Regions from separate parts of the Homo sapiens genome. Here region 2 is reported to be linked to region 1. The links are microRNA targets in miRTarBase. Many come from high-throughput screens and were not tested one by one. Region 1 holds a microRNA gene; the other region holds the end of a gene's coding sequence.

Evidence for each region. Region 1 holds the annotated microRNA hsa-miR-5010-3p (UUUUGUGUCUCCCAUUCCCCAG, at 2,848-2,869, shown strand). A microRNA usually pairs through its seed, bases 2 to 8, with sites in the 3' UTR of a target mRNA and lowers its output. Matches are read on the target gene's strand: a 7mer-m8 pairs with bases 2 to 8, a 7mer-A1 pairs with bases 2 to 7 and ends in A, and an 8mer does both.
Region 2: miRTarBase lists CDH12 as a target of hsa-miR-5010-3p. Seed matches in the 3' UTR shown: 7mer-m8 at 425-431 and 7mer-m8 at 466-472.

Annotation. Positions count from the first base shown.
Region 1 is chr17:42,511,420-42,518,419 of GRCh38, forward strand. It overlaps MIR5010 (microRNA 5010), which reads left to right and starts at 2,769; the gene lies at 2,769-2,888. It overlaps ATP6V0A1 (ATPase H+ transporting V0 subunit a1), which reads left to right. Exons shown (of 22, transcript NM_001130021.3): 20 at 2,442-2,559; 21 at 2,870-3,041. RefSeq lists an enhancer at 5,188-5,687 and a silencer at 6,131-6,180.
Region 2 is chr5:21,744,972-21,752,102 of GRCh38, reverse strand. CDH12 (cadherin 12) reads left to right here. Exons shown (of 15, transcript NM_004061.5): 15 at 1-1,430. The coding sequence ends at 366. Among named protein-coding and RNA genes, the nearest start is that of SNORA105A, 140 kb to the left of the region's middle.

The DNA.
Region 1 (7,000 bases):
AGCTACTCGGGAGGCTGAGAGAGGAGAATCACTTGATTCTCCTGGGAGGCAGAGGTTGTGGTGAGCTGAGATCGTGCCACTGCACTCCTGTCTTGAAAAAAGAAAAAAAAAAGGAAGAACCTCGATGGAGACTAAAAAGAACTGTCCAGAGAGGTAGGAGGAAAACCAAGGGATGGCAGGTATTTCAAAAAGGAGGAAGAGGCTATGGTGACAGACACTGCAGGAGCATGGACAAGGGCACAGAACATCTGTTAGCTTTAACAGCTGGGCCAGGCGCGGGGGCTCACGCCTGTAATCCCCAGCACTTTGGGAGGCCAAGGTGGGTGGATCACCTGAAGTCAGGAGTTTGAGACCAGCCTGGCCAACATGGTGAAATCCCATCTTTACTAAAAAATTAGCCGGGTGTGGTGGTGCGTGCCTGTAATCCCAGCTACTGAGGAGGCTGAGGCAGGAGAATTGCTTGAACCCGGGAGGCAGAGGTTGCAGTGAGCTGAGATCGCACCACTGCACTCTAGCCTGGGTGACAAGTGAAACTCCGTCTCAAAAAAAAAAGTAACAACTGGGAGGTTAGGGTGACCTTACTAAGTAGAGGCATTTTGTGGAGGAGTGAAGGTGGAAGCCAGGGTGCAGTAGGGTGAGGACTGGCTGGGCAGAGAGGAAACTGAGGCAGAAGATGTGGACAGGGACTCTGCAGCGATTCATGGTTGGTCATGGCCGATTGATACGGGCGTGTGCTGAGTGGCAGACTCATAAGTGCTGAGCTGGATTTCTCACCCAGTCCTTGCTTCTCCTGAGAACACCTGCAGGAAGCTGGGAATGAAGGAGAGAAGGCAAGGGTAAGGCCTGGAAGCGAGGCTTCTCTCCTGTCCTGCAGTTTATTCGGTGGGAGAAACTTGAGGTAGAATAAAAACACTGAAGGGATTGGCTGTAAGGGAGCCCAGTGGTCACTGCCCTCCCAGCCCATAGGAGTAGAGATCAGCACTCCTGGGAGCCATGGACTTCTTCCTCTCAATGCGGGCCCTGGGGCGGCAGCCAGCAGTGGTAGGAAAGAGCTCTTAACCACGGTGTTGGGATTTAGGGAACTCAGGGAACTAGGATTACCCTAGTTTTCAGGGTAAGTAAGGAAGCTTGAAGAGCCTGTTCCGGAAGAAAAGCCCAGAAATAGGCTAGGTGTCGACAGAGGTGAGGGAGAAGCAGACGTTCGCCCAGAGATGGCATGGTGGAGCCAGCCCCCTCCACGCTGGCTGCACCCCTGTGGCCTGGGCTGTTGTGGCTTTACCAGCCAAGCCACTTTCTCCCATCCCCATGTTCTCAGTGATTTCCCAAGGCATTTCTGGTGTCCTTTGGGAGTGGAATCACGTGGGTTTTGAAAGGAACTGCGGTGAAAAATAGACCCTGACCTGAGGGCAGGGGCCGATGGGGAGGCCACTGAGCCCTCAGGAGTGTCTGAAAGCTCAGAAGATTCTGGTCTGGGCTCTGCGGGGGGAAGCCCCATAAGGGAGCGCCTCCTGGTCTTTGGTCAGCTTGACAGAGAGGCCCAGGGAAAGTACCTGGGGCTTCCAGAATATACCAAATTCAGAAGCCCACATTCACCCCTGACTGTGCTTGGAGCAAACCTGAAAGTTCACTCCCAAGAGCTTGTTCCAGCCCATTCCTTTATTCTGGAAATAATTCTTGGTATTGAAAGGAAAACTGGGACAAAGGGAGCTTGAGGAAAACGAAAACAAACAAGAAACTGGAGATATGCTATTTAGTCTTAACCCAAACAGATATGCTGTTTGGCCTTAACCCATGTGGAAATTTGTAAACTTTGTCAGGATTTCCCTGTGCATGGTGGTGAAATCATGTAGGGAAAAAAAAATTCACCGTGTAATCTCTTTAGAAGTCACAAAAGAAAAAGAAGGTTATCTTGCTCCCAAAAGGCTGTAAAAAGAATAAGTAAAGTGGCCATAGAGGCCTAGTCTTCTCAGGACAGTGTCCGGGTTGAGAGTCTGTCTCCTGAAGCGCACTCTGGGGAAAATCCCTTCCTGCCCTCCTGCAGGTCCTTAGGGTCCCAGACCCAGACAGTCACTTTCTCAACAGAGTGCCGTCAACTCAGCACACACTCCTCTCTTGAGCACAGAGCCCCAGAGGGAGAAGAACAAATGTGTTGAAAAGAATCTTATTAAGATGTAGTTAATTAAAATGTAATGTATTGAGGGGAATGGAGGTGTCCCAGGTGAGGGCTAAGTCAGGCAGGATTTTTGGGGAAGGCATTGCCGAAATCACCACCTGAGCTCAACACTGGGTGCTTCTGGCCCCTCCAGAGTTGAGGTGCCATCCATGGGAAGTGCAGTCCCCTGCCCTGGCCCAGGTTCAAAGCGCCAAGTAGCCACAACTCAGAATGCCTGCACGTTCCCCTCCTAGCCTTATATCTTCTCTCTGGTTTCCTCCCACGACAGTTTGACTTTGGGGACACCATGGTCCACCAGGCCATCCACACCATCGAGTACTGCCTGGGCTGCATCTCCAACACTGCCTCCTACTTGCGGCTCTGGGCCCTCAGCCTCGCTCATGCGCGTGAGTACCTCTCTCCGGGCTCCGGAACTCTAGTTTCCCCCTCTGTGGGCGCACTGTCAGTTGGGGGGCTTAAGTCAAATGGAAATTACATGAAGGTTCTGGAATTATTCAGGTTCCTGAACCCAAGGAGAATGAGTACAGACAGGAGGCTCAGCACTTGTGCCAGGTTAGCTCTGCATGGTGGTCCCACTAAGGCAGTGGGAAGCCAGGATCCAGGGAACCCTAGAGCAGGGGGATGGCAGAGCAAAATTCATGGCCTACAGCTGCCTCTTGCCAAACTGCACTGGATTTTGTGTCTCCCATTCCCCAGAGCTGTCTGAGGTGCTTTGGACCATGGTGATCCACATCGGCCTGAGCGTGAAGAGCTTGGCGGGAGGTTTGGTGCTGTTCTTCTTCTTCACTGCCTTTGCCACCCTGACCGTGGCCATCCTCCTGATCATGGAGGGCCTCTCGGCCTTTCTCCACGCACTGCGCTTACACTGGTGAGGGGCAGTGGGGCAGGGCGGGCATGGGGGTGGATGTGTCCTTAGCTGCGGTGAGAGGGCAGCTTTTCTCCCACACACAGCCCTGCAGCTCTGTGCAGGAAAGATGAGCTGGCCCTGCACTAGCTTCACCTCAGGACACCCCAGCACCGGCATTGCCACAGAGTTTCGGAAAATGGTCACAGAAAAGCACAGCTCAGCCTTCCCTAGGCTCTAGGGAGATGTCCCTGGTGAGTGGTGTCAGGTCCCGCTCCCTGCCTTTAGCTGTCCCCAGTGCTCCTGATTTTGGCTTAAAGGGGCTGCTGGGGTCTTAGGGTTTCTGGTTTTCTCTCTGATGTGTAACTCTTCTGTCTTCAGAACAGTGGAAGCAGCTCTGGAATGTATGTTAAGTGCAGGAAAGGCTAGAACACGCTGCACCCCAGCTTTATCCTCTTTGTTCTGTCATTGTGCCAGGGGTCTTTGAGTTGGACCCCTGGCAGCTCCATTGTGGACCGGAGGGATTCCTGGCTCTATAGGGTGGAGGTCGGTACACTCACGCAGCTTCTTCACATGGGCAGGTTTGGGGTGGTTCTGTTTGTTTTCTTTAATGAAGCTTGTGACTCTTAATGGCTGTGTGTGGAGAGAGCATGAGTTCAGCCTCTGGGACTGGGAGAGCGGGGGTGTGGTCTGGGCTGTGACCACCTCAAACCAGCGTTGCCAGATGTAGCACATAAAAGTACAGTTTGGCTGGGCACGGTGGCTCATGCCTGTAATCCTAGCACTTTGGGAGGCTAAGGCAGGTGAATCACCTGAGGTCAGGAATTCGAGACCAGCCTGGCCAACATGGTAAAACCCCGTCTCTACTAAATATACAAAAATTAGCCAGGTGTGGTGGCACGTGCCTGTAATCCCAGCTACTCAGGAGGCTGAGGCAGGAAAGAATCTCTTAAACCCAGGAGGCAGGGGTTGCAGTGAGCTGAGATTGTGCCACTGCACTCCAGCCTGGGCAACAGAGCGAGACTCTGTCTCAAAAAAAAAAAAAAAAAAATAGGGGAGGGGTTGGGGGCCAGGCACGGTGGTTCACTCCTGTAATCCCAGCACTTTGGGAGGCCGAGGCGGGTGGATCACCTGAGGTGGGGAGTTCGAGACCAGCCTGACCAACATGGAGAAACGCTGTCTCTACTAAAAATACAAAAACATTAGCCGGGCATGGTGGTGCATGCCTGGAATCTCAGCTACTTGGGAGGCTGAGGCAGGAGAATCGCTTGAACCCAGGAAGTGGAGGTTGCATTGAGCCAAGATCGCGCCATTGTACTCCAGCCTGGGCAACAAGAGTGAAACTCGGTCTCAAAAAATAAAAATACAGGGTGTATTTCACATAAACAACAAATAATTTTTTTAGTATGAGTATTTCCCAAATGTGCATGGGATATGCTTATACTAAAAACTGGGGCAGTCTGTATTTTCTGTGGCTGTTCCACCTCAGACTCCACTTCTTTGGGTCTCTATTTTCTCCTTTATGTTGTGATTCTCTTTTTGGGGGTCTCAAAACCCCAATGTCTCTGGAAGTTCTGGCCCCTCTCCCCAGAGGAGCACTCACACACTTCTCCTGTTTTACAAGCATAGGGGTCTGACTCACTGGTGTGCCTTAGAGGCCCCTGGATGGGATGCTCTGTGGTGTTCATGATCTCAAGGCCAGAAGAGGACTATGAATGTCTCTCTTCGTTCTCAAAACCTGAAGAAAATCCAGCATCTGAACCTGAGAAACTCATTCCCCACTCCCCTTTATCTTTGATTATTCTCATGGCTGGGTGACCCCTGAGCCTCCTCAAAGATTCAGCTGTGGGTTTTTCTGAATGATGGGCGGAGAGTGAGGCATGGAAGGGCAAGACGTGGCTAGGGTGCACTCTTCTTCAAAAGCCCTGCTGCGTCAGTAGACCTGGCTTCCTCTGGCCTGGCTCTCTCCCTCCTGGCCTCCCTCCTCCCCACCCAGCTCATCTGGCTGGCCTCCCTGTTCTAAGCTTATCAGCCGACCCCCGCAAGCACACTTCCTCAGCCCTCCTCAGTGCACGAGAACCTCTGAGGACTCACTTTTTCTTGCCCCTTGGCCTCCTTTCTTTTCTTTTCACTCCTGTCTCTTGAGCCCTGGGTTTGAGGGAACAGTGACCACCTCACCTTGATTCCAGCCCACGTGGGTAGCCGGTCATCTCCCTGGGCAGGGCGGGAGCAAGGCACTGTTGCAGAGCAAGGCCGCCTGGGCTTGAGCCTCATTTTGTTGCCAGAAGATTGCTTCCTCCTCAGGCTCACCTGTGGCCTCCCCGTGTCTTCCCAGGTCCCCCTGAACTGAAGTGATGAGTGGCAGGACAGCAGGCTCCGGAATTGGGCGACCTGGGTTGGAATTCCAGCACTGTCACACCAGGCAGGGAACCTGAGCAGAACATTCACTGCCAAGATTACTGTGAGCAAGTAGGAAGTAATGCACACACCAAGTGCTGCCACAGCAAAAGCAGGTGCTCTAGGATGGGTAGTGGCTGCTCTGCTTAAAAGTGGGATGCCCTTACTGGGTGCGATGGCTCACACCTATAATCCCAGCATTCTGGGAGGCTGAGGCAGGCAGATCACCTGAGGTCAGGAGTTCGAGACCAGCCTGGACAACATGGTGAAACCCCATCTCTACTAAAAATGCAAACATTAGCTGGGCGTGATGGTGGGCGCCTGTAATCCCAGCTACTCGGGAGGCTGAGGCAAGAGAATCGCTTGAACCCAGGAGATGGAGGTTGCAGTGAGCCAAGATCGCGCCACTGCACTGCAACCTGGGCGACAGACCGAGACTCCGTCTCAAAACAACAACAACAACAACAACAACAAAAAAACCTGGGATGCCCTAGAGAGAGGGTGTCTGCCTGGGGTCCCCCATAAAAAGACTGCTTTTAGCCTGTCTAGAGTGAGAGAAGACCCCAGAGGAGGCAGAGGATACCATCAGAATGCCCTCAGGTGCTGTTTGCAAGGAACAGCCTCCCCATATATGTCGTATTTATTTTGGCAATAGGAGTATTGGGTAGGAGAGGAAAAAACAGTGCAAACCTCCTTTGTGCAACTTCCAGAATCTCGTCTTTGGAGGGCTGTTCCCGTGACACGAGTGGGGCGCCTCCCCCACCACTAAAACAGAAGTGAATGAAATTGGTGCTTGTGCGCCCCCTCCTGGCAAAATGCGGCTGTGCGTCCAGGATGCCTGGATCTTCCCTGTGGCCCAGGACTGCAGGAGGCGTTCTGAGCTGTGGCCCTCTTACCAGGGGTGGAGCCTCTGGGGCTGCTGAACCAGCTGTAGGGATGGTGCTGCTGTTCTTCCTGGCATCCATCCTAGGCATCTTCATACCTCCCACTTTATCCCTGCTGTTTCCTGATTCAAGGGCTGCCCCATTATACAAGTTCTGGTCTCCTCAGTGGGGACAATAAGAAAAACATTTGATTCGATAACATATAAACCACTAGTGTGAGATTCATGCAGCATCATAGGAAGGGGGGTGATGTGTTTGAAAACAGTGAGCAGGCTAATGTATTAATCTGCTAATTCTGTCTCCTGAGTTTTCTCTCTTTTCCTCCCTCCTGCCACATGAAGTGTGCTTGGCTTCTTACCTACCATAATTAGACATCTTTTCTTCCTCAGAGAAGGCATGAGACAGGGATTTGATTGTAGTTATCACTGTAAACATCAAACTGATTTTTATGCAGAACTATTGCCCCAGGGCATACCTTCCAAGGAACCTGGTCTCTCCTTACCTAGCGAATTCCACATACACATAGATGTACACCTACCTGTACACTCACAGATTGGGTGGTGATTAAAGGGACAGAATCGGGGACCAGCTTCTTGTTAGGAATGCAGTGTTGCCACGGCATGACAGCATGGAGCAGTTGAGGGAATGGCTGCCCAGGAGAACTCAGAACTCTTGAAATGTAGTTCCAGGCTGCCATCATTG
Region 2 (7,131 bases), not on the chromosome of region 1:
GACATCGGGGCTCTGAGAAACCCAAAAGTGATTGAGGAGAACAAAATTCGCAGGGATATAAAACCAGACTCTCTCTGTTTACCTCGTCAGAGACCACCCATGGAAGATAACACAGACATAAGGGATTTCATTCATCAAAGGCTACAGGAAAATGATGTGGATCCAACTGCCCCACCATACGATTCACTGGCCACATATGCCTACGAAGGGAGTGGGTCCGTGGCAGAGTCCCTCAGCTCTATAGACTCTCTCACCACAGAAGCCGACCAGGACTATGACTATCTGACAGACTGGGGACCCCGCTTTAAAGTCTTGGCAGACATGTTTGGCGAAGAAGAGAGTTATAACCCTGATAAAGTCACTTAAGGGAGTCGTGGAGGCTAAAATACAACCGAGAGGGGAGATTTTTAAAAAAGAAAAAGAAACACAAATATTAATAGAAATCTCTCTCACACACACACACACACACAAACACACACACACACACACACACTCTGGGACAAGATTCCTTTGATTACCTGGTTTCTAGTAAGTTACTAAATTAATCATATTGTCAGTTTTGGTTTATTCTGCCAACAAGAGATACATCCTATAATGTGTACTTGCTTTGTTTTGTTGTTTTGTTTTTTCACAATCACACTGAGACAAGCTCAGGCCTATTCAATACAATTTACTGACATGACAACCTAGAACGAAGATAGCTATGTGGCATCACGGTGGAAGAGTGTTAGATTTTTCTTAATTCCACTAAAGTGCCTATTGAAACTCTTATCATTTAAAGTGGTGTACAGTACACTCTGCTGTGATGGTATTGCGGGATTCAGAGATAAAGACATAAAACAAAGACACCGTCTTTATGTCAAGAAGCAATAGCGACACTCTGACTCTCCTCATTCCTTTTGAGAACAAAAGAAGAACACTTTCTGATCTCCACCTTCTTCTAATTCAAAAGGTTTTCTTTTTCTTTTTTAAACTGTATGCTAAAACGTATTTGTTTATCCTATCCTTTCAGAAAATTGAAATAAATATGAAAATATCAAGTTCAATATGTAAGTCCCAAATTCTAGAAACAATGTTTGATCTTAACATTAGTTCACATTAAAGCTGTTCATTAAAATGTTACTTTCTTTTCCAAAAAAAAAAGAAAGAAAAAAAAGAAAAAATATTCCTCTTTATAAAGAGAGGCCTCAGGGCTCAAATTACACATTAAAATAAATATTGGTTTTGCTTAATATTGTACTGGTGTGTGGAAAATTGGTTTTAACAGTCACCAGATTCAGCTTTTAGTCATAGATGTAATTTCAAGTTGTGTTTCTATGAAAATTCTTAGAAGAAAAAAGTGCCATTCATTTAAGCATGGAAAGAGAAATTCATTATACAGTTTCTCAGAGTTTCTTACAATCTAGTGATTCTTTGATGAGCAGCAAAAATAAAATACATATCAAATAATAGAGGATGGATTTATAAGATGTCTAAAAATATTTGTTATACATTATTGAAAAAAATAAAAAATCAGGGACTTAAAAAAGTTCAAACCAATGACTGAATCCTAAAATGAACGTAAATTCAATTTCAGGCAGCTGATATACTTACTTTACTTACATGGACTTCAACTTTGTGAGCACCATTATTATATTGGAGCTCATAGTTACCTCTTTGTTCTCTCATCTACAAAAATCTTAATGTAAATTATCCCTTACAAATTCCGTGTAATGATGCAAATTTCTAAGTAATATTAGATTTTATAAGCGCATTAGTAAACTAAACTCACATACATTGCTTTCAAGCGGATTGCACACTAGCGTGGAAAACATAAAAAGATGCAAACTAATTACAAAATAATATATTTTATATGAATATGATAACTACTTAAGTGACTACTCTAATATTGTCACTATATATATGAAAAAAATTAAAGTTGCTTATGGGTCCATCCTGAAGATATGGTCACTATCTAGCTGGGTTTATGAAATACTTATAGATATATTTAATATTTGCAAGGTTTTGAAGCTAAAAATTTACACATGACAAAAACAGGCAGAAATATAGACAACACAAGAAAATCATATTCACCGTTATTCATTTATAAATACATCCTTTAAAATGATCCAACTACTCACTATGCTGTGGCAATGGGGGCATTTGAATTCACATTCCCCATTTCTTTGTTGATATCTCCCAGTTGCATATTCTCATTTTCTCCCTCTCAGGAATGGCTGTTGAACTTGTTTTCTTCCATCTCATCCCAATTTTACCTTTGTCTATCCCAAGAACTGCATTATAATATTGATGTAGTGTGATAATTTATAGTATGTTTGGGAAAGTATTTACATAACATGTTTTAAAAGCTGGTGATGCCATAACCATCCTAGAGAGAAAAATTAGGACAATTTTGGGATTTGCCTTAGCAACATGATTTGCTATGGATTGATATATAACCCCTGAAGAAGCTTACTATGCAAGATTACTTCTGATAGACAAAAAGATTCCCATCAGGAATTGCTGCATTTTGCATTTTGCTAGGAAATCTAACTGCCTCTGCATGAGATCATTTGGCAGAAGCAACGGTAGCATGGAGAAAACTTGTGAGGGGCAGGTCATTTCAAACTTCATGGCTGAGGTGCTAAACAAAAATATGAAATAAGTAGATCTTATTTTCACCAAACTGTTAAATACTTTTGAGTACATCCGGCTTTTATTTTTGCCACACCACTGCATTCCTTTGCTAGGTCTGCCATAACAAAATATCACAGACTGAGTGACTTAACCGAAATGTATTTTCTCACAATTCTGGAGGCAAAACATCCAAGATCAAGGTGTTGACAGAGTTGATTTCTCCTGGGAGTCCCTCCTTGGCTTGCCCATGGCCGTCTTCTCTCTGTGTGTTCACATGGTACTCCCTCTGTGCTTACTCATGTCCTAATTGCTCTTCTTATAAAATACACCAGGCCGGGCGCGGTGCCTGTAATCCCAGCACTTTGGGAGGCCAAGGTACATGGATCACCTGAGGTCAGGAGTTCAAGACCAGCCTGGCCAACATGGCGAAACCCTGTCTCTACCAAAAACACAAAAATTAGCTGGGCGTGGTGACAGGCACCTGTAATCCCAGCTAGTCCAGAGGCTGAGGCAGACAGAATTGCTTAAAACCCAGGGGGCAGAGGTTGCAGTGAGCTGAGTTGTCACCACTGCATTCCAGCCTCGGCAATAGAGTGAGACTCTCTCTCAAAACCAACAAACAAACAAACAAAAACAAAAAAAAGATGCCAGTTATACTGTATTAGGACCCACCCATAATAGCTCTTTTTATCTTGATTACCTCTATAAAGGCTCTGTCTCCAAATATAATCACATTGTGAGTTGCTGGGATTTAGGACTTCAACATATGATTTTTGAAGAGACACAATTCGGCCCATATCAATCACACAGGTGTTCATCATATTTTCTTTTTTAAAAACTGGCTTGGTTTAAAACACACACAAAAAAACCCAAATATATGGAAAAAAATGAATAGAAATGATTTCAGATACAATGGGTCACCAGAGGAGAGATATGGGGAAAAGAGGTCTTTGGTGCTCGTAAATATAAATATTATGGGATACATTTTATGCTATGACATCACACTAGGCCTAATATTTCAATACTTATAACATGTTGGGTTCTGTTTTATTTATAATAACAAAATTACTGACCTTCATTTAAGCATTAAGCACTATAAAAATGTTTAGAATTTATATGGGGAATTTTGACTATTAATAATAATTAAACCATAATTTTGTTATTGCCTTGCATGTTTACTTTTATAGAAGTATGTATGTATGTATTATATGTAACATATGTGTGTTACTTATATCTATTTTTAAATGTTACATTTAATTATATTCAATGAAGTATTAGATCAACACATATGAGTGAAACGATGTGATATGCTAGAAATGATCTAAAATTACTTTTGTACCAAATTCTCACCAGAAATATGGGTCAAGCTCCTTAGCCTCCCAGTGTTCTGTTTTCTTTGGCAAAATTAATTTGTTGAACTTAGTGTTGTACAAATTTCCTCTAAAATGTCTTGATTCTGAAATTCTAGTGACAATCTTATGAAGTTCACTAAATCATTTAAATATTGACTACATATAATTATGAGAATCACAGAGAACCTTTAAGCATAATATAAGAATTAGGAATCTTTGAACTATGGATTGCATTGGTTATACATTAAAACTCACCGCTTCTACAACATAAGAGGAGCCAGACAAACATTTCCTAGGTGCAAATGTCAAAATTCTTCTGCAAGATTGAAAAGCAGAGGTGTACATATGAAAAGAGAGAAAAAAGTGTTAAAATAGTTAGGCCCAGATCTTGAGCCAAACAGGATAAACAAATGGTAGGAAGAAAAAATTAGAAGGGATGTGCTATTGCCCACAGAAATCCTTGGAAAATTTCAGTAACTATTTTATTAAAAATGGGAATTCCTAAAACCACATGTCAATACGCAGGCCTTATATTTGAAGTGACCCCTAAGTTATTACTAGACCTGAAGAAAGAGTTTATTAAATGTCAATAAACAGCCTGAGTTTGGTTACTAAAGGAAGGGACATGTGTATGTGGTGGTAGGTGTGTGTTATTTTCATAAATTACTCCTTCCTTGAATTTATTTATTTATTTATTTATTTATTTATTTATTTATTTGCCTCATCAATCTGTAGTTTGGCTAGGTACATAATTCTCATTTGAATTATGTTTTTTAAATGATTTCCTCAATATTCTGAAAACAGTTTCTCTCATATTTTAGCATCCAACTGAGGTGATGAGATAGCATAGTGACCATGTCATTCTTTTCTATGTGATATGGTTTTTTGCATAATGGTCTTCTTTTTTTTATCCTTATTGTTATAAAATTTCACATGGACGAGTCAAGAGGAGTTTTTTTTGGTCATTCTCAGGACTTGGTATTCCATGACCCCTTTCAACAAAGAGCTTCAGAACCTTTAGTTCTGAGATATTTTTCCTGCAATCATTCTTCAATAGTTTCCTACCCTGCGTTTTTCTGTTATCTCTGTGGAATTTTGAATCTTTGGTTTTTGGATGTTCTAGGTTTAAGCACTAATTATATTTTAACTATCACTTTCTGTCTTATACTTTATTTTCATGGTGATATTTTCCTCTTTGTCTTCTAGTTCTATTGATTTTTTTTTGTAGTGGTTTTTTTAAAAAAAATGTTAATTTCAGGAGTATTTTGTTGTTCTGTTCTCTGTCTTTTTTTATATTATTCTGCTCTTACTTTTAGATCAGTCTTTTCTTGACTCACTCTGATGATGTTAATTGCAGCTTTTTACATTTTGTAATCCTATTTTTTTCCTCCGAATTATGTTCTTCAAACACAGCATGGGAAAGGGAGCTACAGACTTCCATTCTACTTTATTCTAGTTCACCCTCATGTCTCATTCCAGTTTTCTGCCATATGATATGTCCAAATCATGACACATCCTAGGATTGTGATGAGAAGATAAGTTTTCTACTGAGCTGCAACACTGATTCCCTAGTCTGCAAATTTTCTGCCCAGCTTCACCCACTATTGTTCTGTTAGCCTTCCAAACATTTACGCAAAATATTTGTCTGCTAATGGACCTTATGGCATTCTCTTTATTTTTGTGGGGATACACACATACGCACACACATATACAAAAACATGTATATGCACATATACATAACATAGAAATAATATATAGAAAGTTTTTATAAATATATATTCTTTTATCTTCAACTTATAATATCATAAGTTTTTCTTAGTTTGAAAAGGATATAAAATGAAATACAATCAGTCATAATGACCCAAAATCTGAAAAAGAAATCTGATCATTTTATTTTATATCCATTGTTATAAAAAAAGAGGTTAATTCTAGTGTGTATGTGTATTACACACACACATATACACATATATATGTATTTACGTGTGTATAAGTCCAGTTTGCATTGTGGACTGCCACTTAAGCCTTTAATTATTTATTTTCTTAAAAACCAATTGTCACGGATTTTCATAACAATCAATTTTATTTACTAAATTTCTCAAAAGTTCTTAAACTTTATTAGGGTTTAATTGTATGTCGTTTTAATTGTCCCACTTTAAAATAAAAAGAAAAAATAGAAGGCAAGAGTGCCCAAACGACTTGGGCAAAACCATGAAATAATAAACAACTATAGGGTAAAGCCCTTTTCTTAATTGTGAATAATTAAATAACTCTTATCTAAACTTTCACTCTGATGCTTTTTCCCTTCTTTTTGTAACTTCTACACTATTATTTGTTACACTGTAATGGCAAGGTAAATTAACATGGATCTCTGGGAATTATGGATCATACTACAATATATTGTTATACTTCCTTATAAAGAAGAAATAACCTAAACATTATTTATTCTTATGTCAATATCTTACTCAAGAAGCAAGAATGAAGGACACAATAGGTTTCCATAGTACAGGTGAAAACTCTGTTATACAATGGAAAATATTCATGTCTATATTACCAAGAATTCAATGTATTTGAAGCTAAATCACTTTGCACCTCCTTTTAAACATTGACATTTACCATCTCAACACTACCCTGACCTTAACTTAGTTGGACTTTTCAATCTAATTATGTCTAATTTCATGTCTTTTTAGCTTCCCATAGGTGTAGCTATACCTTAGCCCACATCATCACTTAAATCTCTAAAATGGAATTTATTTAGTCTCTTCCTATCCATTTTTCTATGGATATGGTGTTTGCCATGACTCAAAATTACATGAAACAATCAGGAATTCTTTCTTTCTTCTCTTCTGCTCTGCTGGGTTTTTTTAAGTAATAGCAATAATAGAGCTACTAATCATTGAGCATATGCTATGTAGACAATTATGCTACAAGCATTTAAGGCTTACTTGATGAGCCACATATTACCATTATATTTATTTTACATATGAGTAAATTAGGCTTGAATAGGTGAAGTAACATGTCTGTTTAGTCACAACTGACAAGTGGCAGAGCCAGGACACTAGCAGAATTATGATATGCACACGCCACCCCTTTACCCATGAGATACAGCATATTGCACTCTCCTGCCTCACTCCTTTATAACTGGGTAACAACCTGAAATCTGTTT